Linked DNA regions of Homo sapiens: region 1 is linked to region 2. The links come from fine-mapping of genetic effects on gene expression. A gene starts in region 2. The other region holds a variant in brackets. All regions are shown on one strand. Distances are between the middles of the regions.

The links. PIP is the estimated chance that this variant, and not a neighbour inherited with it, causes the effect.
Region 1: its variant is the best candidate, but not a certain one, in a credible set for the expression of LINC01871 in whole blood (INTERVAL, PIP 0.85).

The regions. Positions count from the first base shown.
Region 1 is chr2:7,442,034-7,457,329 of GRCh38, forward strand. It overlaps LOC100506274 (a long non-coding RNA gene), which reads left to right. Exons shown (of 6, transcript NR_038432.1): 5 at 3,847-3,923; 6 at 7,851-8,221. Among named protein-coding and RNA genes, the nearest start is that of LINC01871, 280 kb to the right of the region's middle. The variant T/C (reference allele first, on the strand shown) is at 7,794.
Region 2 is chr2:7,716,982-7,732,277 of GRCh38, forward strand. LINC01871 (long intergenic non-protein coding RNA 1871) reads left to right here and starts at 8,798. Exons shown (of 2, transcript NR_183384.1): 1 at 8,798-8,872; 2 at 13,535-13,740.

The DNA of each region.
Region 1 (15,296 bases), 270 kb before region 2:
GATGGTTTTATAAATGGGAATTCCCCTACCCAAGCTTCTTGCCTACCACCATGTAGGACGTACCTTGCTCTTCTGCCATGATTTTGAGGCCTCCCCAGCCATGTGGAACTGTGAGTCAATTAAAACTCTTTCCTTTACACGGAGCTTGCAGTGAGCTGAGATTGTGCCACTGTACTCCAGCCTGGGCGACAGAGCAAGACTCTGTCTCAAACAAAACAAAACAACCAAACAAAAAACCAAAAACTCTTTCCTTTATAAATTACCTAGTCTAGGGTATGTCTTTATTAGCAGCATGAAAACAGACTAATACAAAGCTCTATCATATACCCACCTTGTCAAAAAACAGGAGGAGATGGGAAGAGGGTGAAAATTTTTAAAGGTAAGAATATTGAAGGAGAACCATGGTTGAGAATACATGCTGAGGGAATCTAGAATATTCAAAAGAGAATTGGCACTAGGGATACATGTATCATAGCACCCCTTTCATGGTTTATCCCAGAAATAAAAGCTTTTTTTGGATAAAGGATTATTTGTACAACCATTGATGAGGAGAGGAGCTGACAACAGACTGGAGCGTAGGTAATGTGACACTTCCTCGTGCCAAACTTTCAATACAGCTTGTTGTGGTTCAGCAGCATCAGTGGGATTTATTGGTTTGTTGAAAGTGACAAAAGTTTTCTCAATAGGCAATGATAAACAAAGGAGATTGTTACAATAAGAATAATTTTGGAGTTCTAAATCAGATATAATTCACCAGAGAGAATGAAAGTATGGAATTTTACAAGTTGTGTGTGTGTGTGTGTGTTTACACCATTATGCTGTGGTCAGGCAGCTGCTTTTCCTTCTTTTTAATTAGCATTTTAAGAAACATTTCACATTCATTGTTTGTTTTTATATACTCTAGTTTTCTTTTTTTTTGTAATCATTAGAGTCTCTGTTTTATGTGTATTTCACACACACACAAAAACACACACACAAACACACTCTTTCAAAACCCCAAAATGGTATTTTTTTATTGCCCTATGTCTCTAAGTTAAAGGAAGCTAACATTTTCACCTCTCCTTGTTTCAAGTAATATTGTTTATCAGCACTGAACTTTTCCTTTCTCAAGATGCCTGTGTTTGACTGTGAGTTTGATGATCATTCACCCACATGCCTATGCGAAACCTGTAATTAAAGACATTTTATGAAAGATACTGTAGTTGTCACTAAGCTAAAAGACCTTGCTTTCAAGTGGTGAAGCTGAGGCTCCAAGTGCTTAAGTTAAAATATTGGTTATATAATTGACACACGTGCTTGTCAACTAAATGATTTCTTTTGTTTTCTCTTCAATATTAAATATTTAGCAGAAAGAGATAAGTGCAAATAAGCAAGTGTATAACACGATCAGTGTTTTGTTTTATTTCCTTTTTAATCTTTGATTTTTGAAGATCTTAATTCAACAATTTAAGGGCACTTAGTGCCACCACTATCCTCCATCTCACTCCCTCATGGAGCAACTACAGACTTTAATTTCTTTTAGTCCAAGTAAGATAGCTGTAGAACAGGGAAACTTTAATATGCATAAAGGCTGAAGGGTACTAGAGCTTAATTTCTTACTCACATAAAGTATAAAAGAGGTGTTCCTGTTGGTGGGCATCCCTCTTCCAAGCAGGGATGCAAGGTTCAGTTTTTTTCTTTTCTTTTCTTTTCTTTTCTTTTCTTTTCTTTTCTTTTCTTCCTATTTTTTTTTCTTGAGACAGAGTCTCACTCTGTTGCCCAGGCTGGAGTGCAGTGGTGCGATCTCTGCTCACTGCAACCTTCGCCTCGCGGGTTCATGCGATTCTTCTGCCTCAGCCTCTGGGACCACAGGCACATACCACCATGTCCAGCTAATTTTTGTATTTTTAGTAGAGATGGGGTTTCACCATGTTAGCCAGGATGGTCTCGATCTCCTGAACTTGTGATCCTCCTTGGCCTCCCAAAGTGCTGGGATTCCAGGCATGAGCCACTGTGCCTGGCCCAGCTTTTTTCATATTGAGTAGAAGCCCAGGTAGAAGAGAAACTCGTGGAAGATGGCTAGAGCAGAGCTTACGGGCCAAGCTGGAATCTGTAAAACAGTATACAGCTATTTTGCTCATAGTTTATGGGCTAGAACTCTGTTACATGGACACACCTGGCTGCAAGAGATCCTGGAAAATGAAGACCAACCATGCATGTGTGTACACAGGAATGCATGCACAGAAATGGAATCACACTCTTCCCACATTTTGCTGTGCATTGCTTTTACCATATCAGCCCATACAGCTCTATTGCATTATTCTTAGGGTTTGTATAGCGTTTTGATAGAAGAATGTTTTATTTAACCAGTTTATAAGCCCTCACTTTTAAAACCACACTAACTTTCACAACAGAGTAAAAACCTTGCTTATTAATTCTATGAAATGACGTGTTTTGGAGATTTGAATTTTGTTGGTAATTAAGCCTTTATCACACCAAGCACCACTTTTCATCTGAATTTTAAGGAATGTTTGCACGAATCTCTTTCCAAATTCATTGCGCAGTTAGGTGCTTTCTTAGAAAAAAAATCATCCACAGACAATAATTTAACAATTTTATTCATGAGAATGGGGATCCCCCAAGCACTCAGTTTGTCTGTCCTATTTCCCACTCTTCTTGACTAGTTAGCTGTGGCCCTAGGCTGTGGATGTAAGCAAAGTATGCTTATTTGGGGCCAACATATGCAAGATCGGCTGCAAACTTCAAGCTGTCTTCCCCTGTCATGGTGATCAAGGATGTCTCACATTGAAGTGGTAGATGCACTAGATCAGAGCGATAAGAATCATTGAATTACTACGTGGAGGGCTACCCTGAAAAATTGCCAAGAACTGCAGTGGAATTTTCATGACTAAGAAATGCAAACCATTATTGCATCAACCTTCTAAGACATAGGTGTTATTACCAGAGCATATTCTAGCCTAAGAAAATGCTTACGCAGTATTATTTATAATATTAATCATATTACTTTACATTATTAATTATATTAATTTACATGTTTTGATGGATTTATAGCTTGCATAAGGCTTTCCTAATCATTAGCTTAGGAAATATTCTATGACTTGTACAACAATGCAACTGTGGGTACAGACAGTTTTGAGATGTGTTCTACTCAACATTTATGAATTTATGCTATTTTACTTTTGAGTTTGCATATCTTCTTTTAATAACATGTTTCTGCTTTTGTGTATGTCTTCTATCCTATTGCAACTTTTCATGTTATGTGATTTTAGTAGGCAACATTCAAATTTAGTTTTACTTGTAATAGCAAAAGTGAATTGTCTCAGAATGAGAACCTGAGAACCACCTTTCTAAATAAGCTATTTTACTCTTAGTCCATAGAATTTGAAGCCTTTGTTTTCTATCAGAAATATTATCTCAATAATACTTCAAATTGCTTCCTGTCTATTTTTATTTTTTTTAAGACAGAGTCTCCGTCTGTCTGTCACCCAGGCTGGAGTGCAGTGGCTCGATCTCAGCTCACTGCAACCTCTGCCCCCTAGGTTCAAGTGATTCTCCTTCCTCAGCCTCCCAAGTAGTGGGGACTACAGGTGCATGCCACCACACCTGGCTATTTTTTGTATTTTTAGTAGAGAAGGGGCTTCTCCATGTCGGCAAGGCTGGTCTCGAGCCCCTGACCTCAAGTGATCTGCCCGCCTTTGCTTCCCAAAGTGCTAGGATTACAGGTGTGAGCCACCGCACCCAGCCTCTGTCTGTCTAGTTTTAAGAGTGGTCCTGTGGCAATCCCTAGCTTCTCTATGTGTTTTTAAACTTAATTCCATCTTGTCTCTCTTTACTTCCTATCTACAGAACACTTCACTCTGTCTCGATTACTACATGGTGAATTGAAGTTCCAGTAGAGAGGGAGTTGAGCTGATACTGAGGAGGTATGTATGCTAATACTGCCCAGTACTAACTTGGTGTCCATTTTAGCAGAAGGCAAGTCACTGCGTTCCTTTTTTCAATCAGTAAAACTATAAGGCTGGGTTTGATTACCAATTAAGATTTTTCTGTATACCAAATTATCTGGTCTTTGGAGAATGAAAAGCTGTTCAAATCTTATAATCAAGCAGCAAAGAAGTACTAGGTAACATATTTTCAGTATATGCTATGAGCCAGTTCACAATGCCATGCACTTCACTATATCATCTCATTAAACAAATTTGTGAGATTCTCTTACAATTTCTGTTTCATACATGGGAACTGAGGCATAGAGAGTACCATGCTCAGGGTCATGGAAGGAGTAAGCACTGAAACCGGCAGTTGCATCTGAGTGTATCTGACTCCTGGATCTCAGGTCTTCTACAAGCAAACAGGAGTAGTTGCTACATAGGCCCTCAGAAAATTAACACAATAAATAATAGGTGCTGTAGTTTGTACCAGAAGCCAGGCACATTTCTGCCCTTGGTTGCAGCCTCTTCTGCCCAGATATTGTCGGTCCATACTTTCACAACCTGTCGTCTCATGGTTAAGGAATCCCTCAGGAGCAGCAGCCACTGCAGCTTCTGGGCTGGCTAGCCACCCTTCTGTAGATTCCATGGGTGGGGAATGGATCTAGACAGCCTATTAGTCACAGCACAACAGGCAGCATGAGCTTCTTGTTGCATCGGTTCCATATGTCCCCAAGGTAGGCCCAGGTGATTGCCATGTACAATGGGGTCTGCATCACAGCTGAGGAACATGGGGTGCCAAACCCCTAACCTTAATGGGGCTGCTAGCAAACCTGCCCAAACTTTGTTTCTGAAGGAGACACTATCCTTATTATCTTGATCACAAAACAAGTCTGCCCTTTGCCCTTAAGGGAGACACTAGCTTCTAATGCTGCTAGATAAATGTAGTCTGAGATGCAGAGACACCATAGAGAACTGCATCCTGACAATTCCTAAAGGTGAAAATGTGGCCAGAAGCAAACTCTATTCATATATGTGTCCATCTGGTGGGCTTCCATAGCATTTGCCTTGCTCAGACTTCTCTTCACAGCCAAGAAGGATGATACAACGTAGAGCATGGAGTGTGGATGAGAAGTCCCCACAAGTTCCCCAGAAGGCTATTTTTCTCTGGAGCAGATAGTCTGAGTGTAGATTGGTATAATCCATTTGGAAAACATTTTGGTAATATGAAGAAAAAGACATATAAGTACATTGATACACATTCAATGGAAATTACAGGTCTTGGAATCAATTCCCAAAGGCATAATTCAAAACTCTTGGGAAGACCCACAAAAATAGATCCTTTATGTAGCAAAAAGGTGATCATAACTTAAGAATAGGAGAATAGATATGATATAGTGTACTTTCTTGATGAATTATTATCTTTTTACTTAAAATGATGGCTATGGACTCCAATAATAAGAAAAATGTCTATGACATAATGTTATATGAAAAACTGGGTTTAAACTGTGTATATAATATGAATACAAATGTGGTAAGACACTCACTCCTAAGGGGAAAAGGTTTGAAGAAAATTCATTAACTCCTAAGCATTTGTTGAATTAGACTGAGAGAATGAAGAATGACTTTTTTTCTCTTTTTATAATTCCCTGCTAACTTTAGACACATAGTTAGATTTTAAAAGGAAAAATATGTATAAGGCTAAAAAGAAAAAAAATCGTAGTGATGTATTAATGCCCTCTCTAGACCTAAATCAGAAACCACCAAGCATTTTTCTTCTTTTTAATGTTGTCTTTTCATTTTTTAGGTTTATTAATTAAAATCTCTCCATTAAACCTATTTGTCTGCCCAGCATAAAACAGCATCCGGGCCTCTAAAGAGAAGTCATGGGACAAACTACCTGCCCAGGGCTCACTGTTGAGGCAAAGGTACCCTTCATCGGACAGGATTCCATTTTTTGTCTCCTGGATCTTTCCTCTTTTTTTTCTTTATTTATTTTTATATTTATGTATTTATTTATTTACTGAGACAGGGTCTCGTTCTGTCCCCCAGGCTGGTGTGCAGTGACGCGATCTCGGCTCACTGCAAGCTCCACCTCCCAGATTCTCGCCATTCTCCTGCTTCTGCCTCCAGAGTAGCTGGGACTACAGGCGCCCGCCACCACACCCGGCTAATTTTTTGTATATTTTTTTTAGTGGAGACGGAGTTTCACTGTGTCAGCCAGGATGGCTTCGATCTCCTAACTTCCTGATCCGCCCCCCTCAGCCTCCCAAAGTGTTGGGATTACAGGCGTGAGCCACCGTGCCAGGCCGATCTTTCTTTTCTCTACAGGAATCCCCCCAGGAATAAAATGCAAATTTGCGTGGGTATTGCAAGGTCCTTAGAAGTTAGTATTGACTCCTTCATAATCCTCTGGCCCTACCCATCATTAATAGAGCCTTCCATTAACAGCATCTCCCCGCCTAAGCATGCTGGGTCCCACCTCGCGACCACCCCTTACTCTAACTGGACCCACACAGAAATTTTTCAAGCTCCTAGAATGTTCCAGGGTCTCTGGCTTCCGAATCTATCACCTACAGTTCTATCTGCCCAGAACTCTCTGCCTCCCCAATTCACTCTCACCAAGCTAGCTGTTTCCTGATTAAAATTGCTTTCTTCATGACAAAACCCTGTACTCCAGATCCCCCAGTCTGGATCAGGCACCCCTGCTGGGTCTCCTCCCTAGGAGCCTTCACCTTAGTCCCTGCCGTTACCTGAGTCTCATCGCCCTCGTGGTGCTCTCAAATGCTCCCTCCACAGTCTGGGAGGTTTTCACTGGGGACTATCCTGGAAAAGGCGTAACATGTGATTCTAAGAGGTGACAGTGAGCACCCACATGTCATCTCAAACTGCTGAGAACAGGGAAGGCAGGTGAAGGTCCCGCTTCTATTGTTTTGTAACAACATAAAAGCACAGTTTATTTCCTACATAAATTTTATTTTCTAAAGAGGCCTTGGGTACTGAGATGTGAGATGGACTTCACGGAGAGCTGGCTGCATCACGAGCCCCAAAGGGTAAGAATCAGGCCTGGGACAGAGCACTCACACACATACCGTGTGCTCACAGGTAAGGGCAGGAGTGCGCAGCAAAGAAAGCTTCACATGGCTCCCATGTAACCTGACTTTTATCTCTGCTTTCACAGAATGAGGCATAAAACTACCAGCTAGGCACTCGCCTTCCTTTCTATTTAAATTTGCTGTATTGGAATGCGTTTCTATGTCTCACCTAAGTTATTGTCTCATAGTGCTTGGATAAACTTTGTTTTCCATTATCTTCCTAAAAATAAACTTCTTGAAATACTGTGTGTTAAATCATCTCAACTTACATCTGAGGTAATCAGGCTTTTGGTAAATTCATGAAGTATTTGTTCCAAGTGTTGGAAATTCACCCTTGAAGTCTCATCTCTGAGTGAAATGTCTGCCTTAGAGAATAACAATGATCACAGCACCCCAGGACTTCTCCTGTGTCAGTGGTTCTCCTCCCTCACCATCTAAGGGGAGGGGGAGAGAAACACCTGCTCTCTCATGGCAGCTCCACACCCCTCCCCACATCTGACTTCCTCCTTGGTGGAGAATTACTGAGCATTCCTGTTAAGAATACAGCACATCTGACAAATAGATTGAATTGAAAAATGTATAAAATCATCTAATTGTTAATTGGAGAACTAGGTAAAATCCTTAATATGTAGAGAAATTTAAACATACTTTTATAGGTTTATATGTATTTGGACAAAGATTTTTTTGTTTTTCTCCAGGCTAAAACACCCATAACCATCATCTTTGGTGAGGAGAAAAGACAGATATTTTAAAAAAATTTGTGTGATGAGAA[T/C]TTATTTATTCAAATATTGTTTTTTTCTTATTTTCAATCTTCATTTTTTCCCTAAAGATAAATACCCATCACTGTATACATCTACTTCTTGGAATTTGCAAGGGAACCAGTCAACAGATTTTTCAAGCCTTATAAGTTTATCTGCCTGAGAAGTTCACCAGCTACATAACATCCTGGACTCTGGAGCCCAAGAGATGTGTAGTTTCCATTTTGGAGCCATTTTCTTTGATAAATAAGTAGTGAGGCTGCCATTCTTGTCAAAGTTGAGGACCACAACCTTACTCATGAAACTGAAAGATTGTTTGTTATGAGGAGTTCTGTTTGAGCCATACAAGCAATATATCCTTTTTAAAGAAATGTATCCGGAATCTTAGGTGTTCATTGCTCCAAGCCATGTGCAGAATAAAAAGAAAACAAAAAACAAAAAACAGGAAGTGTGAATATTTTTGACCAATACAGTGATTACACTCCATTCCCCAAAAGATTGCCTACAAATGTGTCTAAGCTAGAAATCATCTACAGTCCATACTACGGGGTGGATCAATGGTGATTTCATCAGCACCAGCCCAGCTGCTCCATGACAGAGAGGCCTGCATGCCGCCCTCCATCTTCCACCTGTCCACGGCTGACACACGGTGGGAAAGGGTTTTGCTGACATTGGTGATCTGAGCTGAAAATGTGAAGCCACCTTTTGGCATATAATTCATATTGGTTTTTCAATCATTTGTGTCTGTGTGTTTTCTTTTTGTTGCATTTTTTTTCCCTTCTTAAGAAACTCGTCATGTGGTATTGAAGGTGACCTGACTATGGCAAAGAGCATGTTCTGTGTGGTTTGCCTTTCCACCCACGCACAACACACTTTGCAGACTTGACAGGGATGGATCAGCCCCACAGAAGAGAAAACAGAAAACCAAAAAATACCCCTCCTCTGAAAAATACCCCCGGTGTGAAACTCTTTCTGAGAAAGACTGGCCCTTTTCTTTAATGTAAAAAAATATATATAACAAAAATAGATTTCTTCTCAAGACTCTTGTTTATTCAGATGATATCAATTCTGTTTCCAGCACAACATGTTGTAGCTGCTACTCAGAGATTTTTAGAAAGTCAGATCAACGCGACTGCAATGGGTTTTTGCCGTGAGTGAGCTGTGCTTCTCACTTGCTTACTAGAAGGTAAATGCGTAATTATACAGCACACTCACGGAACAGCAGTGAACTTTATGGGCGTATTTCTAAAACAGTCTGTTTACATCAACGGTGCTATACAAGTAACAAATAATAATAACAGTGTGAAGAAAATTAGCTCCTTAGGATGCATAACAGTTAATATGTAGCTCTGTATAATTAATATCCTGCAATTTAATGTGTTACTCATTTTCTTTTTTCCCTTCCCCTTTACTAGGAAGAAAGAAACAGAATTTGTTTAATTAAATATGGCATTTTCACAGTAGTATCAAGCCATAATATATCAGGCTGAATTAATCTGATTTCCTACCCCATCAACTTGACATTGGGCATCAGTTTATGCCCGACTTCCACTATACCCACTTAGAATATGTAAATGTTGTCACCTCCTCATTGTTATTTCTATCTCCATGCCTAACAAATGTGTAGAGAGTTCTCTCCTCTTTCAAATAATTGTATATACATTTAATCAGTGGTTTTCAACTGGGGCCAATTTTGCTCTTCCAGGGGACATTTGGCGAAGTCTGGAGACATCTTTGGCTGCTATAACTAGGGAAGGAGGGAGTTCTATTAGCGTCTGGTGGGGAAAGGCCAGGGACCCCTGCCATGCCCAGGCACACCTCCACAGCAACTATTCAGCTCAAAGTGTCAGTAGCATTGAGGTTGAGATCCCCTGCATTAGCTCCTTGATCTTTAAAACCATCCTCCAAGGTAGGGATTGTTATCAGTCTCCTCATTTTATGCATGAAATTAAACAAAACAAAACTTAGGCCCAGATGAGCCAAGAGATTTGTATCCAGGATAATCACAGGGCACAAAGTGAAGGACTTGGGTCTTGAATTCAGGACTCGAGTCTAAATCCTTCCACACTTGCCCCAGCCTTTTTTTTTTTCTTGCATTAGTCCTGCTTGCATAAGGCACTTTTGTTTACTGTAGCTGGCAACATATGTGCTCTACAGAAGTGTGTGGGGGCACATGTATTTTCCTGACATTCACACTCTTATTCTAGCAAACAGTTCCTAGGAGGCAAACAAGTCTGACTTGAGGCAAAATTGTGAGAAAAAGCCAAGCCCATCTTTGCGCTTGTGTCCTCCTGTGTTTGTCAGTGCTGCCCCCAACGAAGTGGCCACCCTAGAGAGTCCACTGCTGTGTGTTCTCATTCTTTCCTGGCCAGGGATACTTAACCCCACCCATCAATGCATCTCACTTGTAAAATGTATACCAGACCCATATTGCAGCTAATCAACGAGCCAGGCGGAAAGATGGTATGCTCAGAATGTGGGCATTTCCTGGTAAGCAGGAAAGGCTTCCTGGCCTCTTCAAAGCAGATCAGATTCCTATCGAAGCCTGTCCTCTTTTCTGAGGTGTCAGGGCCACGCACGTTGTGGCTTTTCAATGGAAACATGGTACCTGTCAAATTCAGGAAGGCGTTTTCCTACTGCCAAATGAGCTCTCCATGCTCCCCAAAACAACACTCACGAAAAGCTGCCCAAAGCTAGGGATACAGAGGAGAGGGCTACTTTTTAGAGTGACTTCTAACAAACCATTTTTCCACAAGACAAAAGAGCAGAGAGATTCAGTTGTGTGTTCATCCTGTGGTCTACAATAACAGCAGCCCCTCCACCGTCAGCACCGCCCATGCTATCATGCCTCTGCCTTCTCTCTAGAGCAGTGCACTCCCGGAACACACTGGGAAGGGGCCCTTCCTCTAAACTATCTAGCTGTCACTGTCACCACTTAATAAACAGTTAAAATGCAGTGACTCAGATTGCAAGTGTCAGTTTGGCCTGGGTGATTGTCAAATGGACCCATCCCAGCTAATTTAGGTCTTCCGTGGCTCTACTCAGGATGCCTAAAGGCAGGCCTGATGCCTACACATCCTGGCAAATTCCAGGAGCAAGGGGGGCAAGAAAAGTGCATGGAGAGTGCATCCGGGCATGGTGGCATCCAGGTGTGAGTGACGTGGAAGAAAGACTTGGGAAGGAGGAGCCACGTGCTCTCAATCAGTGAGTAATTTATGGTCTGTGCTCCAAAAACAGCAGCAGTCCCCCTTCTCCTACAACCTCTGGAGGCAGAACCCATGGCTCTGCCATGTCAGGTCTCTCCACACCTGCTGTGACAAGCAGGAGAGAAGAGAGTGTTTGTCACTCAAGGGAGTTCTTCATGGACGGCTTGCACTTGCCGTCGTGAGCCAGCTGGTCCCATCACTCCTTGTACAAGGGGCTTCTCTCCTACGCTCACTTAATTCAGTCAAATAGCATCCATGTGTGGTTCTGGGCCACATTCTATCATCCAGAGTGGCTCATTAAGGATGCCCAAGTGGGGTGAAGAGTGTCTGCAAGTAATTTTGTAAATTTTAACAAACTTAACAAGAAACAGTCTAAAGCATTCAAAACACAAAATCGACCAAGTGCCTGCTACAGGCCAGGCACTGTGCTGGGCTCTGAGGCTGCTCCAGCATAATCCTTGAGCTCAGAAGTTTCAGAGGAAGCAACCAGTTGCCAAATAACTCTATGTACATAATAATAAGATACATGGGATTCTTAAGAAGAAAAAGAATTTCTATCACTGAATACTGGAGACAGGAGATTTGGTGTTGGTAACAGAGAGTATAAACCACAAAGTGCACATGACTTACTGACTTCAAGGTGTGTGGCCAGCCAACAGGTATTCTTGACATCCTTAGCATAGAACATTTTGGAAACATTGTGCTTATTATCCCCATCACCAGCCTTTGCATTGTTGTTTATTTCTTAATTCCACATTTATTCATCTTTCCACATTTATTTATCTTTCCACATTTATTCATCAAGCTTATTCATGTTTCCAGCCTATTTTAGGGCAAAACATTACCTTGAATTTTGTATTTCATGGATGTTCCGATCTGGGTTTTTTTCTGTTCTTTAGACCCGATTGAAATACTATCTCCTCCAGGAAGTTCCCACTGAATGCTTCTGGGATCCAATAATCTATACAGAGTGCCCACTCTTTATTTGCAGGTTTTTAACTCACACATCACTTTTTATTTTTTATCATACGAATTAGGTTTACTGTTGTGCAAATTGCTTTATCCAGTTCACATTCTTACAATCATGAGAAGAATAAGTATATCCAGAAAAATGCTAAACATGTACAAGTTAGTCTTTGGATTCATTGTCACTGAAATCTCACCAGCGCTTTCCATGATCCCCTTACAACACTGCCCTTCCTCCATCCCCACGAAAGTCAGGCCCTTCCCACCATGTGCTGGCATAGAATCCTGAATATGTCCCTTCCAGAGCCCTTAGAAATGACACTGCCATTTGTATTTTTGTGGTTCTCTTTCTCTCTGATGAAACTTGAGTCCTAAAGAACAGAGACTGAATCTGGTTTGCGCCGCATCTTGTTTAGGGCCAGATAAACAGGAGGAAATTAGTGTTCATGTTGACTGCATGTAGGTTTCTGTGTGTAGGTTTCTGTATGTAGGTTTCTGTATGGGGGCATCTGCGTGTGGGCATCTGCGAGTGTGTATCTGCATGTGGGTATCTGCATGTGTGTATCTGCATGTGGGTATCTGCACGTGGGTATCCGTGTGTGGGCATCTGCATGTGGGCATCTGTATTCTGCATGTGGGTATCTGCATGTAGGTATCTGCATGTTGGCATCTGTGTGTAGGTGTCTGTATGTGGGCATCTGCACGTCGGTATCTGCATGTAGGTATCTGCATGTCGGCATCTGTGTGTAGGTGTCTGTATGTGGGCATCTGCACGTGGGTATCTGCATGTAGGCATTTGCATATGGACAGCTACATGTGGATATCTTCATTCTGCATGTGGGCATCTGCATGTGGGTATCTGCATGTGGGCATCTGCATTCTGCACATGGGTATCTGCATGTGGACATTAGCATGTGGGCAGCTGCATGTGCATATCTGCATGTGGGCATCTGCATGTGGGCATCTGCATGTGGGCATCTGCATTCTGCATGTGGGTATCTGCATGTGGGTATCTGCATGTGGGTATCTGCATGTGGGCATCTGCGTGTGGGTATCTGCATGTGGGTATCTGCTTGTGGACATTAGCATGTGGGCAGCTGCATGTGGATATCTGCTTCTAGGTAACTGCATGCAGGTGTCTGTTACTCACATGGGCAGTAGCTCTGAGGAGCCAGCACAAAGTCCTGAGGCTGGAAGCCTGGGACATCCCACTATTTATGTTACACAGATAAGTAGTAATATGCTTGAAACAAATCGTTCAAATCATTCATCACACCGGAAACGTCTTACTATGAGTAAATTCCACCCGTACATAAACAATTTTTGTTTTGTTCTTTAACCCAAACTTATGGACTGACCTTCAAGTAGCAATCTGAGTTTTAACTTTGAACTGTGTCTCTCATTAAGTGTTGAAAGCCAGCTGAGCAATTAGCATTTGAGGAAGTTAGTGTCAGATGTGACCCATGGATGCCTGTGTCCAGAGCTTCGAAATCCTGTCTTCTTATTAGGCTAAACCCTTGGATAACACACAGACCTTATTAGTGAGCCTCAGTAAACTATCATCCCTGAGTTACCTCTGAAACTCATGATGGCTACATTTTTTTGGAATATTTTTGTAAATAATTACCATATAGAATACATATCTGTCTGTTTTATACAGTTTCATGATAGGCATCTCCGTTGTAACCAAGAAAGGTAGTATAACATGGCTGGGAACAACGGATCACTGTCTTGGATCCCATGCCCATGGGTACTTCCTCTTTGACTAGCTGTGCATGAACTTGACTAGGCACTTACCCGTGCAAACTTCCGTGCCTTCTTTGTCCAAAAACGATAATAAGAATTATCTCTGTGGTTGTGAAACTGAGTAAAATTAATATATAAAATGGCATACATGGCCAGGACATAATTAAAAATCACTTTTTATTATGCTTTTGTTCAATGTCAATGTACATTATCCTTTTAGTCACTGTTTAGTAACAGATAATAAAGTAAAATGAAAAATGCCAGTTTTTCTTTTGGCTGCTATGAAGCTCAGAGCAAATGTTTAATCCTTAGTCACAGTAGTTATCTGAATCTGGATGTTCATTATATGGCTTTTCTCTTCCTCTCACATTATTTTTGTTTTTATTTGACATTTAGATTTCTGAAGTCCATATTTTATCCAAACAACACATTTTCAGAGTAGATGAGATAGGTTCTATAAATAAGTAAATACATAATTTTTATTTATATAAACAGAAAATATAGGCTCCCTGTCATGTAGGACTTACAATATTGTTAGGGTAAGAAAATACACACAAAGTAAAATTATAGATGTCTGCGTGTACACGCACACACACACACAAATGCAGAGTGCTGTGACTGTAGCTTTCACAGCTGGCTCTCCGAAAACAACAACGAAACCCCTCATTTGTAGGGTTTGCCAATTTCCATGGTGTCAATATTCTTACCATGGCTAATTTTAAGCTCCCACTCATTTAAGAACTGGCTCATACAATTCCGAAAGTACGAGTTGGCTCTGCAGAAAGATGCTGAAGTGGCCTAGTCTCGAAGTGGGAACTCAATTCAGAAAAGAAGGGCTACACGTCTATGGACCAAGAGAGTCTAAGAAAGTCTTGGGGAGCATAGACAACCTGAGGTGCATCTTAACAGACTCATATCATTTGGAAATAAATAAAGACAGGTGAAAAAGTTCTAGCACCTGTGTGTAGCCAGCTCACTCATTCATTGTGTATCACTGCTTTGTTTATTCAAACCATTTTTTAAAAATTATGACCAGACACCACGCACTGGCCAAAGAGTTTTAAAACGTGGAATTTTAATCCCCGCCCTCAAGGACAGGAGGCCAGAGAGTTGTAAAGTGTAAAGTAATGTGGAAACAAGGGGAGAGCCACATGACACTCTCCGGGTGATATCCGAGGAGAGTGGTTAACCTGCCTGGTAGGGAAGGGCAGGGAGCTTTGTGAGGTTGTGACCGAGGCTGAGAGGCAGGCAGGCGAAGCGCATTCCAGCTGGAGAGTCTTTGAGTGAAATAAAAAGTAGAGGACGCATGGAGTGTGGACAGCTCCAAGCACGTCCCTGTTGTGACATGACATGCATGCTAGGCACAGGCAGGAGCAAGAAATGTGTCAGGGACGCGGGAGACGCAGATTCTGAAGGATCTCAGGGCCCTGGAAAAGAGCATGTCGTTTCAGCAAGTCTCGACGCACCACTGCTGCGATTGAGCAGTGATCAGAATTGCATTTTAGATCAGCCACGTGAATGGATTCGCTGTCTGTGTTGCCTTTGAATGGCTGAGCGCAGAGGTATGAGACCCCTGTAAAGGCCATTTCCAGCGTCCAG
Region 2 (15,296 bases):
AGAACTGGGGTCTTCAAAAGCTGAATCTCTGTAAGTTGTGGCTTCCTCCAGTGCTTCGCTCTTTTTTTGCGGGGACAGAGTCTTGCTCTGTCGCCAGGCTGGAGTACGGTAGCGCGATCTCAGCTTACCACTGCAACCTCCACCTCCCAGGTTCAAGCGATTCTCCTGCCTCAGCCTCCCGAGTAGCTGGGATTACAGGCATGCACCACCATGCCTAGCTAATTTTTGTATTTTTAGTAGAGACGGGGTTTCACCATGTTGGCCAGGATGGCCTCGAACTCCTGACCTCTTGATCTGCCCCCTCTGCCTCCCAAAGTGCTGGGATTGCAGGTGTGAGCCGCCGCGCCTGGCTTTTTTCTTTTATATATTTATTAAATATGTATCAGCATCATTTAAGCAGTAAAATCTATAGTCAACAGTATCATTAGACTTTCTACATACGAAGTGATCTATTTGTTTTTGCATTTTAAATCCATATTAGGAAGATTTACTCCTAACTATTCTAGTATACCATTTGATATGTATATTATTAATCCAATTGAATACTAGTATCAGGTCAATTTACTTTTCATAAAAAAAAAAACAAAACTATTTCTATCATGGGCAGACCCAAGTTTGGACATAGTGTGTGCTTTTCTATAGCAAATGTGGAGCTGGGCTACAGGGATCCAGCACCTTGCCCTATTTTACCTATCTAAACCTTCCACAGCCTAAGGATCTAGGAAAAGAGTAAATAGATCGATGCATTGGGGTATGTTTTGTCAATTTTAATTTCTGTGTTCCCCAAACTTTAATTTGCTTCCCATTTCCTTCAGAACTAAAGAATATGTTACAGTAATAATAATAACAATGGTAAATACTTGCATAGTATTTACAAATTCCAGGCACTGCACTAAATGCTTTGCACAGTTTCACTCATCTTAACCTTACAACAGCCCTAGGAGGTGGGTGGTAATTTAGCTCCATAATTTATACGGTGGGAAAAGTGAGCTAAGAAATTTGCCCCAGGTTTACACAACTAGTAAATAAGTCAGTTTGGATTGTCTATCACAATCTAGCTCTAAAATTTATGCTTTTATTAACTAAACTATACTACATCCAAAAAAGATATTCTTAGCTTTATATTCAAATACATTTTCCAGTTGTCTTTATACAACTTCCCAATCTCATCTCCCAGGACTGTGCAACTCTAGCCCAGTGGAAACCGCCGTCTTTATTTTTTTATTTTTTTATTTTATATATATATATATTTATTACACTTTAAGTTCTAGGGTACCTGTGCACAACTTGCAGGTTTGTTACATATATATACATGTGCCATGTTGGTGTGCTGCACCCATTAACTCATCATTTACATTAGGTATATCTCCTAATGCTATCCCTCCCCCTCCCACCACCCCACAACAGGCCCCGGGGTGTGATGTTCCCCTTCCTGTGTCCAAGTGCTCTCATTGTTCAAATCCCACCTATGAGTGAGAACATAAGGTATTTGGTTTTTTGTCCTTGCGATAGTTTGCTGAGAATGATGGTTTCCAGCTTCATCCATGTCCCTACAAAGGACATGAACTCATCCTTTTTTATGGCTACATAGTATTCCATGGTGTATATGTGCCACATTTTCTTAATCCAGTCTATCATTGTTGGACATTTGGGTTGGTTACAAGTCTTTGCTATTGTGAGTAGTGCCGAAATAAACATACGTGTGCATGTGTCTTCATAGCAGCATGATTTATAGTCCTTTGGGTATATACCCAGTAATGGGATGGCTGGGTCAAATGGTATTTCTAGTTCTAGATCCCGAGGAATCGCCACACTGACTTCCACAATGGTTGAACTAGTTTACAGTCCCACCAACAGTGTAAAATGTTCCTATTTCTCCACATCCTCGCCAGCACCTGTTGGGACACCGCCCTCTTTAGACCTGCTTTTTCTTCTGCAGCTGCCTGAACTCCTTGATGATGCAGGCACGTCTCTTCCCATCCTGTTAGCTTCTGATGGGAAGGGATTGGGAGATATAAAATGAGACTCCTCAGAGATGTACTTTCATGGTTTAACTCAAGTGTGATCATGGACGTGCCATAATAAAATTTCAAGAAGGAATGCTCCAGCAATTAACGGAGTGCAAACGAAATAGCCGTCAATCAGATGGTGATGGAAGAGCACAGTTGGGAAGACTTTCTAAAAGAAGTGCTATTTGGCCAACAATTTTAAGATAGAAAAGGAATTCACCAAAAAGCAGTGGGGAAGATTTGTGCATATGGGAAAAGTTATTGCAGACATAGAGCAGTCTTTTGTTTTGTTTTGTTTTTATTTTCTGTAGAGACAGGGTTCTCACTATGTTGCCCAGGCTGGTCTCAAACTCCTGGCCTCAAGTGGTCTTCTCACCACAACCTCCAAAAGTGCTGGGATTACAGGTGTGAGGCACTGAGTCCAGCTGAGCAATCTTTGTTAGTTTGTGAAAGCACAAGCAAACCTGTGAGTAACTGTGTGTAACTTGAATTCATTAAATGTATATGTATATTTACATATTTATGCACATATGTGTATGGCCTAGTGAGGCAGGAGAACAAGACCTGGAGGCAGGGAACCTAAGGACTTTCAAGAACTAAATCAAATGGAAACACTTCAGCTATGACAGGAAATATCCTCTGCATTTACATAGGGTGTACACCAAGTAAATGGCTTTGTAACTTGACTTCATTCTCTTCATTTCTATCAAGTAACCAATGGAAACCTCTAGAGGGTTTTTAAACCCCAGAACATTCTATAACAGGGCTGTTGAGCCCCTATGCTCATACCCACTCCCACCCTGTGGAGTGTACTTTTGTTTTCAACAAACCTCTGCCTTTGTTGCTTCCTTCTTTTCTTGCTTTGTTTGTGCATTTTGTTCAATTCTTTGTTCAAGACACCAAGAACCTGGACATTCTCCACTGGTAACACTAGTATTGTGACTGCTACTGTGGATGTGTGTATAGTTATATATGTACACAAATATGTGTGTGTGTCCTGGTCTTGTGACTGCTACTGTGTATGTGTGTATAATTATAGATGTACACACGTGTACTTAGTGTTTCCTCAATAACAGTCAGCATCTTCCTGTTTTTACTCCCCACGCCCCTTGGTCTAGCATGATGCTTCATATGCAAGCAAGGATATTAGTCCATTTTCAAACTGCTATAAAGTGCTGTCTGAAACTGGGTAATTTATGAAGAAAAGAGGTTTAATTGACTCACAGTTCCACATGGCTGGGGAGGCCTCAGGAAACTTACAATCATGATGGAAGGTGAAGGGAAAGCAAGGCACCTTCTTCACGATCATGGTGGAAGAGATTCAGGCAAGTCTCATGTGGCAGCAGGCAAGAGAGAGAGAAGGGGTAAGTCCCAGACATTTATCAAACAACCAGATCTCATGAGAACTCCCTTGCTGTCAGGAGAATAGCATGGGGAAATCACCTCTATGATCCAATCACCTCCCACCAGGTCCCTCCCTCAATACCTGGGGATTACAATTTGAAATGGGATTTGGATGGGGACACAAAGCCAAACCATATCAACAAGGTTTTGGAACTTAACATTTCTTTTGCAAATAAGCTTTTATTCTCTTCATAGAGAGACCTTGAGTATATCTCTGAAATCTTTGAGTAAGAAAGCAGAATAATAAGGGTTTTTTATATTAAGTAAGTTAGATTCTTGAGCCTCGTGAGAAAATTGTATCTGAACTATCCACAAATATTCTGCTGTTTCAATAAAACGGCATGCCTTCACCACAGTCTACCTGCAAAGTACATTTCAAGGTAAATCCTGTAGGCTATAGGGATTTTTGAATGTTCTTTTAACAGATTATTCTATTATATGCCCCCTCTTGGTGTGGCAATCAGTGTGATATGTACTATCACAATTAAAAATTAACAAAAAAATTTACAAGAAATAAAATGATTTGGTGGATGTTTCCTTTGTATAGCAGTTTGCAAAATGTATTCTGCTGTGGGCTCTTGAAATAGATATTTTATGAACAGGTATAAAATTCTCAGGCCTGTCATGTACAATTGCTACAATTGATTTGTTAAATGGCTGCCATTTTACTTGGGAAAATATTTGTGTTGTTTTTTCTGCTGATAGCAAAGCTCCATGCCAGGAAGGCATTTGCTCATTCCTTGGAGCTGGCCTCACAAAACAATTCACAGCAAAATTAAAGCAACTTAAGAAGAAACTTGAAAATCAGAACAACCATGTGCTTAAGCAGGAGAAGACCCACTAATGTAAAACGGAGACAAAAAGCCCTAATTAAATGCCGAATCAAACCAACTCTACTTTCCTTTTTCTTTTTTTTCTTTCTTTCTTTTCTTTTTTCTTTTTCTTTTTTTTTAGGGAGAGAGTTTTAACCTTTTAGTGATTCCCTTATTCTGAGAAACAAAAGAGAGGGAGTTGCAGAGCACAGAACTCTGCAGACAAAATGTCCCAAATTTCCACCTTCTATTCAGCAAAGGGGACGAGGAAAAGAGGATTTTACCCAACCTATATGTAGGGATTGTTTTCTTAAACTACTGACAACAGTGCCAGAGAAAACCCACGCTGAACGCCTCCTTTTGACTTTCTCATCGGGAGTCTTCTCTTACCCGTCAGATTCTGGTCCAGAAGTCCCCCCTGGCAGCTGTCACCCTACGGATTTGCAGAGATGAACTCTCTTACTGGGCCTCCAGTGGAAGTGAGAAGGAAGCTGATTTCTGCAGAGGAAGACAGGGAGATGACAGGTTTCTTTGATAGATGTTTGAATTTTGTTTTTCTAGGGCAAGGCAACTCATTTGGTGGACATAACAGGCAATCTGGTCTCCACACAGACAATCCAGATGGTTGTTACGAGTTGAGAGGAGCTGGCCATCGGGAGGCTCAGGCCAGCTCTTTTATTACAGACCATCTTCTCCCCACAGTCTGCAAGCTGCATGGTTTCCTCTGAAGGACTGCGTGTTTAAAAATTCAAACATCCATACGACTCTTTATTTTCAAAAATTAAGTGCTACATAGAAGTATGCTAAACTCAAGGCCATGAAATACTATCCAGTTTTGCCATCTTCCTAAGGCAAAATGCTCATGAGTTGGAAGCATGGGACACATTAATCAACATAGAGCTAATCCTGGCTCTGACCTTAGCTCACTGTATGGCCTCAGACCACTCACGTCTCTTCTCTGGATTTTATCCACCTCCAAGTGTAAATAGTCTTGGGTCCCTATCAGTTTTGACAGAAAATGATAGGTTTAATTCAATAAGTCTGTCTCAATTCGAATCACTGGGTTTTTAATTAGTACAGTAGTCTTTCCTTAATTACAGGGGATACATTCTAAGACACCCTGTAGGTGGCTGAAACCACAGGCAGTACTGACCCTATTGCCATCAAGTGGAACATGTTTCGGTTCATGTCTTCTATCCACAAATGTAGAGCCTTTTTCATTTTAACTAAGCACTTAACACGCACCGCAGCTGTAACTTTTGCAGTTTGAGGTGTGACAGCAAAACTAGCATGAATTTCTTTTTTTCTTCACAATTTCTTGAGTAGAAGACTGAATCTTAGCAGCCTCAGCACACAATTTTTTTTCTTTCCTGAAGCCGAGAACTTTCCTCTTTTCACTTAAAGGCAGCACTCTATGGCTTCTGTTTAGTACATCGACGTTGCCAGCATTACTACTCTTGCGCTCCAGGACCATTATGCAGTAAAATCAGGGTGATCTGAACACAAGCATGGTGGCACCACCATAGTCGATCTGATCTCTGAGGTTGCTGCTCAGTGAGTCATGAGTGGGGAGCATGGATAGCGTGGATCCGCTGGACAGAGGCTGATTCACTTCCCAGGTGAGATTTCACTCACATGACGCAGGACAGCGAGCAATGTAAATTTCTGAATTGTTTATTTCTGAAATTTTCCATGGACTATTTTAGACCACAGTTAACCAAGGGTAACTGAAACTTTGGAAAGCGACCCCTAGAAGCGAGGACTATGGCATGCACTAGATGCCGGAAACTGACAGCTACATGCTACATGCTCTCAGGGAACTCAAAAAATGCACTACTATCATCTGTATTTTAACCTTGATACTAAGTGTAATTTTTAACAGTGTGAAGCCAAAAAAGAGGACTTGAAAAATCATAGACATTCTGAAGCACTGACTAATTAGAGGACTCAATCGACACTTCCAGAAATACCTGGAACCCAATACAATGCTAAACAATCCAAGCGCTAAGCTAGGCTAAGCCAGTTTGGCAAGGGGTGAAGGTGAAATGGGTGAAGAACCTGAGAGTGCAGAAGGAGTTAGAGAAGCTCTGTTTGCAAATGAATCTAACTACATCTTCCTTTACAGGAATGAACGTGGAAGTGTATCCAACTGGAAGAATAAGTCCAAACCAAGGAGATTTTGAGAGTCAAACTTAGGGAAAACCAAGAAGAAACTAAAAGTCCAGAGATTGAACCACCAAATGTAAGAACTAATCTCCTACTAATAGGAGGAATCAACATGTTCTTTCCAACAGACCTGTAGCCTCTGATGGCACACAGTGTCACTGAGATCAGCTGGGTGGTCAGGTGTTTGAGCCACCTTGAAACACCAGCAGCTGAGGAAAAGAGCTCCTGCTGCACCTGCTGGGAGCGGTGGGGTTGGGGCTTCCCACTTCCCGAAGCCCTGGAAAAGGGCACCCAGACATTTTACAGAATCCTTGAGATGGAAGGTGAGTTTTCCAGGCCATTCCACAGGTTAAGCCTGCTGGCTGATTCAGCCATACAGGAGAGTTTGCCTGGGAATGGATACCCCAGTGGCTGCTACTTTGACTGATAAAGCAAGCCCAGGAAGATGGTTGAGAATAGTTTGTGCACTCCGATTATCTCTGACATTTTCCCAACTCATAGTTGGAGCAGAGCTATGACAAAGGCATGCATGTTGCTAGTGCAGACATCCTCTTGGCTGTTAAGGGCTGAATTCTGTACCCCCACGTTCATATGTTGAAACCCTAACATCCAATATCTCAAAATGTGCCTGTGGAGACAGGGCCTTCAAAGAGGTTGCTGAATTAAAATTTGGTCATATGGGTGGGCCTAATCCAATCTCACCTGTGTGTTTATAAAAGGAGATTAGAACACAGACACGCCAGGGGGAAGACCATGTAGGGAAACAGGGCAAAGGAACTGCCTGCAAGCAAGAGAGAGGCCACAGAGGGAACCAACTCCGCAGACATTTCGATCTCGGGCTTCCAGCCTCCAGAACTATGAGACAATACATTTCTACTGTTTAGCCACCCAGTCTTCATACTTTGTTACAGGGGCCCTAGCCACCTGTAGACCAGCATAGGGTCAAAAAGCTGTCATGACCAAGTGCCCACACTGGGTCAGCAGTCCCAGAAGCAGTATCAGAATCATCTGTGCAGATAAAACTCTGAAGTCCAAGAAAGAGCCATTGGCACACAAATAAGACCAGAACAAATCAGGGAACCAGGTGATGACCTTTACTGTCAGAGATCCGTGTATACAGTACAGTCAGCTGACAAGAGGGCTCTCAATCGTGGCCACATATTTGAATCACCTGGGGAGCTGTTAAAACCCATGACACTAGGTCACAACCTAGACAAATGAAATCGGAATCCCTGGAGGGTGAGACCCAGGCATCAAGAAGGATTTAAGATCTCTGCAAGATTCAAATAGGCAGCCAAAGTTGAGAACAGCTGGCTTAAAGAGATTACGAGACTTTGTTACAGTATCTCAGCACGGATTACATTTCAATTTAGTTCTTTGCTATTATTCTTATCCTCTGAAATGTTTACACCACACGACGGCCTATCACTGGCTCTGAATTTTATATCATAATCACATAATAGGTTCCTCACTTAAGTTGTAGACATAGGCAAAACTTTTCTTGTTTTTGATGTAAGATAAAGGGAGAGAATGACTGGAGCAAAACAAAAATAAGATAATACAAAATAAGTCATGGGGTGGCATCACATTTTAAGAGTCTTCATTTATGACAAAAGCACAAGCTTATTTGTTGGGGACATAACTTTTGCCATTTTTCCTACCTTGACTGTTTAAGCTCGCAGCAATTTTATAGCTCGCTGTACAGGCTAAGGCTTTTGGTGCCTTTCTTTTTTAAGCTGTGTCAAAATACCTTTAAGGAAAAAAGATGATTTGAAAGGTATAAACCCAACGAAAGTAATAGCACAGTTACAGTTTTTGTGTTTGGGCAGATTTTAAGACATTTCTATGTATTTTTCTGACACAATGGATCCTAAGGACTGCCGTAGACGTAGATTAGTCTGATTTTAGGCCATTGCTTTGCAGCATTATGCAGTTTTTATCTGAAAGACGTTTCAAGAGGGGGAGCTAGTTAGCTAATTAATTAGAGATTGTGACTTAAATTTTTCAGACAAGAGATACTTTCCGAGTTTAAGGAGAACCCGAAGAAAGCTGCGTTTCTGTATCCGTGCCATGGGAAGTCTCCTGTCCTGTTTCCACTCTGCCTTCTCCATAAAGCAGGCTGATTATCAGGGCCCTCACACAAGCCCAGCGTGGTAGCTGATTAAGGCTTGACAAGCAAAAAGCAAACAGGATTTCTAATCATGTGTCTCATAGAAATGGAGCCACAAAAACCCAAAGAATTGCCATTACACCCCAAGTCATGCAATTTAGAGCAACTCAGGAAATAGGTGCACACAAGCAAACCATGTGGTTAAAGCCTTTGGAACTGGTTTGAGCAAAGCTGTAGGTGATTTGACAAAATCATCTGCAAAACCAGATTTCTAACACCTCCCTGCTGTGTATCTCATTTCTGCTGATGTGTGGTGCTTCATAAGATGGGGACGTTAAGCATGCAGCAACTACAGTCATTTGTTCTCAGAGGTGAGTGTTGCAGTTATTTTTATTACTTTTTCTCTTCTTTACTCTATTCCTTGCCTCTCGCCAGACATTCCTTAAACCACCTATCAACTCTCCCCTCACAGTCTTCCTTTTCTGTCTGCATTCTTTTTTTGAACCCAAATCTAACTTAGCTGCTTTTGTGGTTTTTCTATTCACTTTGTCAATTTCTCCCTTGGTTAGAAAATAAATTCCTGTGCACACTCACACCTATGCAAGGGCTGCTCTCAGACATAGCAGGAGGCCAACTTCAGCCTCAGCCTCTTGAGCAAACATTCCCAAGAGGGAAGAGCAACATGGGTGTGTGTGTGTGTGTGTGTGTGTATTGTGTTTATTTGTATGAAATGTCAATAGGGCATACTAATAGCTTGTGAACAAGTATCTATATCAAGATAGACAACCCCAATACATTCGACATGTTGAATATTTAACATGAATCACACATTTCTTGTGAATTGTGAGCAATATAGTTGTACTTATGTGTATAGATATGTGTACATTTATACATGTATATATATAAGGTACTCTCTATAGAGTACCTTATAGCTTACAAAGTGATTTCAAGTACATTTTCTCACTTGACCTAGAAGAGAGAATAAGTAGAATGTGCACATCTTACTCCACAGGGAACCCCTCTTGGAGGCCGGTCTCAGAGCTAAGGTGATAAATGGGGCCAAGAACAGTGGCTGATGCCTGTAATCCCAGCACTTTGGAGGCCGAAGTGGGTGGATCACCCGAGGTCAGGAGTTCGAGACCAGCCTGACCAACATGGTGAAACCCTGTCTCTACTAAAAATATAAAAGTTAGCCAGGCATGGTGGTGGGCACCTGTAATCCCAGCTACTCGGGAGGCTGAGGCAGGAGAATTGCTTGAACCCGGGAGGCAGAGGTTACACTGAGCCAAGATCACACTCCAGCCTGGAGGACAGAGCGAGACTCTGTCTCAGAAAAAAAAAAAAAAAAAAAGATGGTAGATGGAGTGTGACAGTTTGTGTTGGCATTTTGGCTTGGCAGAATTAAAGCCTAAAGTGCAGGGCCAAAAAGAGCCAGATTTGCAGCCTAGCTTCACCACTCCCTAACCATATTGCACTTGGGCATGTTCCTTAATCTCTCTATGTCTCTGAAACAAGAGGAAAAATCTCTTAGAGTTATTTGTGCAGAGTGAGCTACGATGTGTAAAATGATAGCCATTATAGCATGCACGTGAGCATGTACTATTAAACATAAGCAATCATTTGTGAAGCATGTTGAGATGCACATTGTCTAGCACCCCTGAGCCACCTTGGCTGTCCCGTAGCAGTCCCCAAGAGTCCTTTTCTAACATGGTTATGCCAGAATAATTTGGTTAGTTCAGGTGGGGTGAGCACAGTGGGGCAGGAACTGTGTCTAGTGGTTGCTGGGCAGTTTTGCACCTGGAGCTAGCACAGTCAGTTTTGTTGCACAAATGTGTGCCAAGCACTTTTCATAGGTCAGAAGCTAGAGAATAGTGTGCTTGTAAGCAAGCAATGAGAAATAAGATGGGAGCTCTTATTGGGGTTCCCTAGCTTCACCATCTTCAGTAACTTCCATCTTTGGTTCTGGCGGGCTTTTCTGAAGGACAGAACAGAAGCCCATGATAAAGGTGGGGTTGAGAATTCAAAAGAGATCTTTAGAAGTAGAACAGGGCCAGGGCCCATGTTAAGATTGAACTTTAAGGCCAGGCACGGTGGGCTCACACTTGTAATCCAGGAACTTTGGGAGGCCAAGGTGGGAGAATTGCTTGAGGCCAGGAGTTCAGGACCAGCCTGGACATCATAGTGACCCCCTATCTCTGCTAAAATAAAAATTTAAAAAAATTAGCCAGGCATGGTGGTGCACATCCATAGTCCCAGCTACACAGGAGACTGAAGAGAAAGGATCACTTGAGCCCAAGAAGTTGAGGCTATAGTGAGTTGTGATCATGCCACTGCACTCCAGCCTGGGGGACAGAGCAAGACACTGTCTCCAGAGACAGAGAGAGAGAGAGAGAAATGAAACTTTGGGAAGGAATGAGAGTGATCACCAGGTAGTGCTTCTGAGGAAGCTTGCTCTGATGGAGCTGACAAAGTGCCTTTATCTACTATGGATTAAGCATTACAACCCCAAAATCCAAAATCTGAAGTGTTCATAAATCCAGAATTTTTTGAGCAGTTACATGACACTCAAAGAGAATGCTTATTGGAGCATTTCAAGTTTCAAATTTTTGGATTTGGGATGCTCGATGGGTAAGCATAATGCAAATATTTCAAAATCTGACAGAATTCAAAATCCAAAACACTTCTGGCCCCAAGCACTTTTGATAAGGGATATTCAATCTGTACTACCCTACCATGAAAATGAAGTCTCGGGAGAAATGAGTTCTATGCTTAAGACTGAAAACTTACAAAACTTTATTCTTTGTCTAGGAGAGACATGAAAGCTATAGGGAAAGGGATGCAATTATTATTGTTGGTTTTAACCTTTTTGAACCCAGTCTAATTCACAATGAGATTAATGACAGTGTTTATTGAGCTTTTCCCACTTGGCCAACAATATGTTAGGGGTGGCAATCCCGATAACAACCTAAGAAGTAGACTTTCCATTTTACAGATAAGGAAACTGAGGCTTGGAAGGATTGACTTGCCGAAAGGCACAGACAGAGGAAACGGCAGCAGTGCGATATGCCTCTAGATAGTCAATCTGGGGCTTGCCCTCTTCACAATAATGACAGTAGCCACTGCATAAGGGCCTGGTGAGGACTGGAGACAACACATGCAAAAGAACCAACAGATTCTCGGCGCAGTGCATTCATGCATGTACGGATGTCATGTATGAAAGTGCCTGGAAAAGGGCGGCCATTGCACATTCCTTTTGCACTTGGGAAAACTTCATTAAAGTGTACCATGTAGTCAAATGGTTAGCCCGATTTGGTGTATGACTGAGAAATGGGTGATGCCCTCCTGGCCTGAATTCAGGAAACTGCACATCAGGGAAGCAGAGCTAAACTCTTAGGGACCCAGAGTGGAATTGTTTAAAGGCTAAATCACCCCCAAACCGCACGCGGTTCTCGTCAAAGTTAACGGCAGTGGCTCATGTGTGCGTGGACACTGTGTGATCCTCCATAGGGAAGGAGAGCAGCAGTGTCCTCAAGGATGAAGCCCTTCCAGCCGAGCCCCCATTGGTAAAGAACCTGACAGAGGAAAAGATGCTTCTGTTTCTGGGAAAAGGCACATTATACGAATCCAGGGCACTGCCGGAATACAGCCCTATAAGATATATCAGTACATTCATATGCGTGCTCCTATCACCCATCCAACAAATTGAATGAAATTAAGAAAGGAGCAGTCATCATAAGTCATATCTACTCAGAAATGTATATTTAAAAGCAGGCTGCTTTGGACAATGCTTCGCTCATTAAGACTCTTTTTAGGTGCATTGTTTACTGTGTAAACCCTGATTAATTTACAGTTTTTCTTTTTGCCTGACTCATAATTACTCTATGGAAAATACAATTTTGGAGAATACAACATTAACTACATAGGATTGGTATTAACAGTCACGGACCCACTGAAGGCGAGTTTTACTGTTCGCTCAATGAATGTCCTTCAGTATCTCTAAATTAGATGGAAAAGCATCTATGATTTCAGGGCCCATTTAAATAAATTAAAGCCAGAAATGAGTGTGCTAACTTTGCATGGATCCAAACATTTGCCACTGTTTTCCTGTCTTCCCTTTCTACCATTAAATTCAACCCGACCTTTAGAATTTGTGTCCCCCAAGCAGAAGATAGATGATTCCCGTGTATCAACCTTGTATTAAATGCCTACCATGCACTAAGCACTAGGAAAATAGGGAGGAAACAACACCCTGGATACTTTTCTCAAGTAGCTCTCAGTGCAGCGGGCTTAGCATGGAAACAGAAGCAGCAAAACGTTGTGGGAAGTGTCTGTGTAACATGCGGCATGGCTGTTATTTAATCCCAATTAAAAGGATGAGAAAGTTGAGGTTTACTAAAGTTAAGGAACTCCCCTAGGTCCATAGTTAGCAAGCGCTAGAGACAGAATTCCAAACCAAAGCAGTCTGCTTGAAAAGCCCAGTTTTGTCCCACCCCTTCCCTAAGCATTTGTTCAGATGGGAGTGAACAATGCATAAAACTGGCTGTGGCATTCGGCTGACCTGAGATCTAGTGGTGGCCTTATTCCCAGCATGCAAACTCTCACTGACATGCAAACCCTTGCTGACTACTTCATATGAGAAGGCAGCACCATTCCTCTGTCATGTATGAATGCAATTTTCCTGAGACATTTTTATTTTCTGTTGCTTGTTTTTAAATAATTAATGCCATTGTAACAGCAGCCTCTCTTCATTTAGGAGGGCATTTCCACTCTGAATTTCCAGTTCCAAACATTTCAGTTTTCCACCAAGACATCATTCCTGGGTTTGGGATTCCTGAATTTTCTCCACACAGAGGTGACTGCTTTCAGTGGAAAACTTAGCGAAATTGCATTGTTCTCCCTGAAGTATCTGTGTAACCAAAACAATGTTACTGCTATATGACATGTTGTAGGCATTCTCAATACATTTGGAAAATGCAAAAGTAACTGTGATCTAACATCTCAAACTGGCTATGGATTTATTTTCCTGTGGTCAGGTCTGGACCAAAGAGAAACAAGAAAAGCTGGAGTCACACTACCAAAGGCCGAAGCTGAGCAACAGAGCTCTGGAGTCAGCTGCCTGGGTTCAGCATGCAGCGCTGCCGTGGACGATCTGTCTCTCTTGCATATATGACTTACCAGTTTTACTTTCAGTCTCTCCATTTCTAATTAAATGAGATGCAGAAATGCTGGTGCCTTGCTATGATGTTTGCAGTTATTATTTCTAGGAAAAAAAATATTATTGTTACTCAGTATCTGGTACATCAAAACTAAGCCAGAAACGTTTAAAAAGAACAAAAGTATCATTTCTACTTAATTCTCTAGCTACTTGGACAACTGGACTATGCCCCTCCTTTCAAGGGAGGGCAAAGCATTTCAGAAAAGAACTAAGTGCTATTTCTCTGCTTCAGGAATGTCTCCCGTATGTAAAAGAATGTGGCTTCAGGGAGTAGCATGTGTTGTAAAGGTGGATGGGTCTAACTTCATGGACAGCTCTGACATCCACTAGCTATGCCACCTGATGCAAACCACTTGGGCTGTCTGTAGTTTCGTTTATCTTTCTGGAATTGGTAATAACAACCACCTGGCAAGATCACTGTTATGAATACGGAGGATCAAAGTTGTGAAGTTATTTTGTAAAGTGAAATGTTCTGAAAATTGGATTTTAACAGTGTCAGCGAAAAGTAGATTTTTGACATTTATCAAGAGTTCAGCTAATGAAAACAAGTATGGATAATAGTTACATAGAACTGTCTACTTTACTCAGTACTTTAGCATATGCTATTATATTTAATCTTCTTAAAAAGTAGAAAATTATACAAGCCATGTATTACTATTATTGTGGTGGTTGTCGTTCTCAATTACACACTGAATATTAAGACCTCTCAGGTAGCAGCTGGAAGGACATTGTATCCAGTTTCCTGATTGTTTTCAATGGAATAATCATGTATACATGCACTACTAATGAGACAATGGTGATTCTAAAAGCTTAATCAGGGGGACTTTTGTGTATTCCAAATCTACTAAAAATAAAGAAACACAGAAATGAGAAAAATGTACATTAGCAAGAAAATGTACACCAGCATTCAGGCTTAGCCTTTTGAGAGCAATATGATAAATAGAAATAGAATTTCACAAATTTAACATGATGCTAATCGAGGAATGAATGAAAAAGTGGTCAGCAGTCTAAATGGAACATAACACAAAGAGATCTCGTAAACAGTAAGCTTTGTGCAGGACATCTCTTGGGGGTCCCAGGTGTTGGGAGAGTCAGGGAGAGATGTCTACTGTTTGAACAGCAATAATACAAAGTTGAAGTGGGACAATATTCACCACCGTAGCTTGATGGAATTAGCCTTTCAAAAGATTGAGTTTATTTATTTAGAAATTGCCTTACCCCCTTTTTATAAATGTGGCAAATCAGCAAAGACGGTGACATTCTTTTAATTCAAAACATCCGTTCAATCTACAGTCTGCTCTCCTAGATGGATTTTAAGAGTGGGGGTTTGTCTTCCAACTAATGTTTGTCTTCCAACTAATGTTCCCCTGTCAATTAACTATCATTTCCTGTTCTTATTAATCAATTAGATCTTTTCCACTGCCTCAGACTATTCTTCATTCAACATTTGTTTTTTATCTAAAATGTCCCAGACTGTTCTAAGCATTAAGAGTAAAATGTCTTAGAAGAAATAAATCAAGTTGAGTGGGTATCATAAACCACTCAACTAGTGGCCGAGTCAGAAATCTAAATGATGTTTT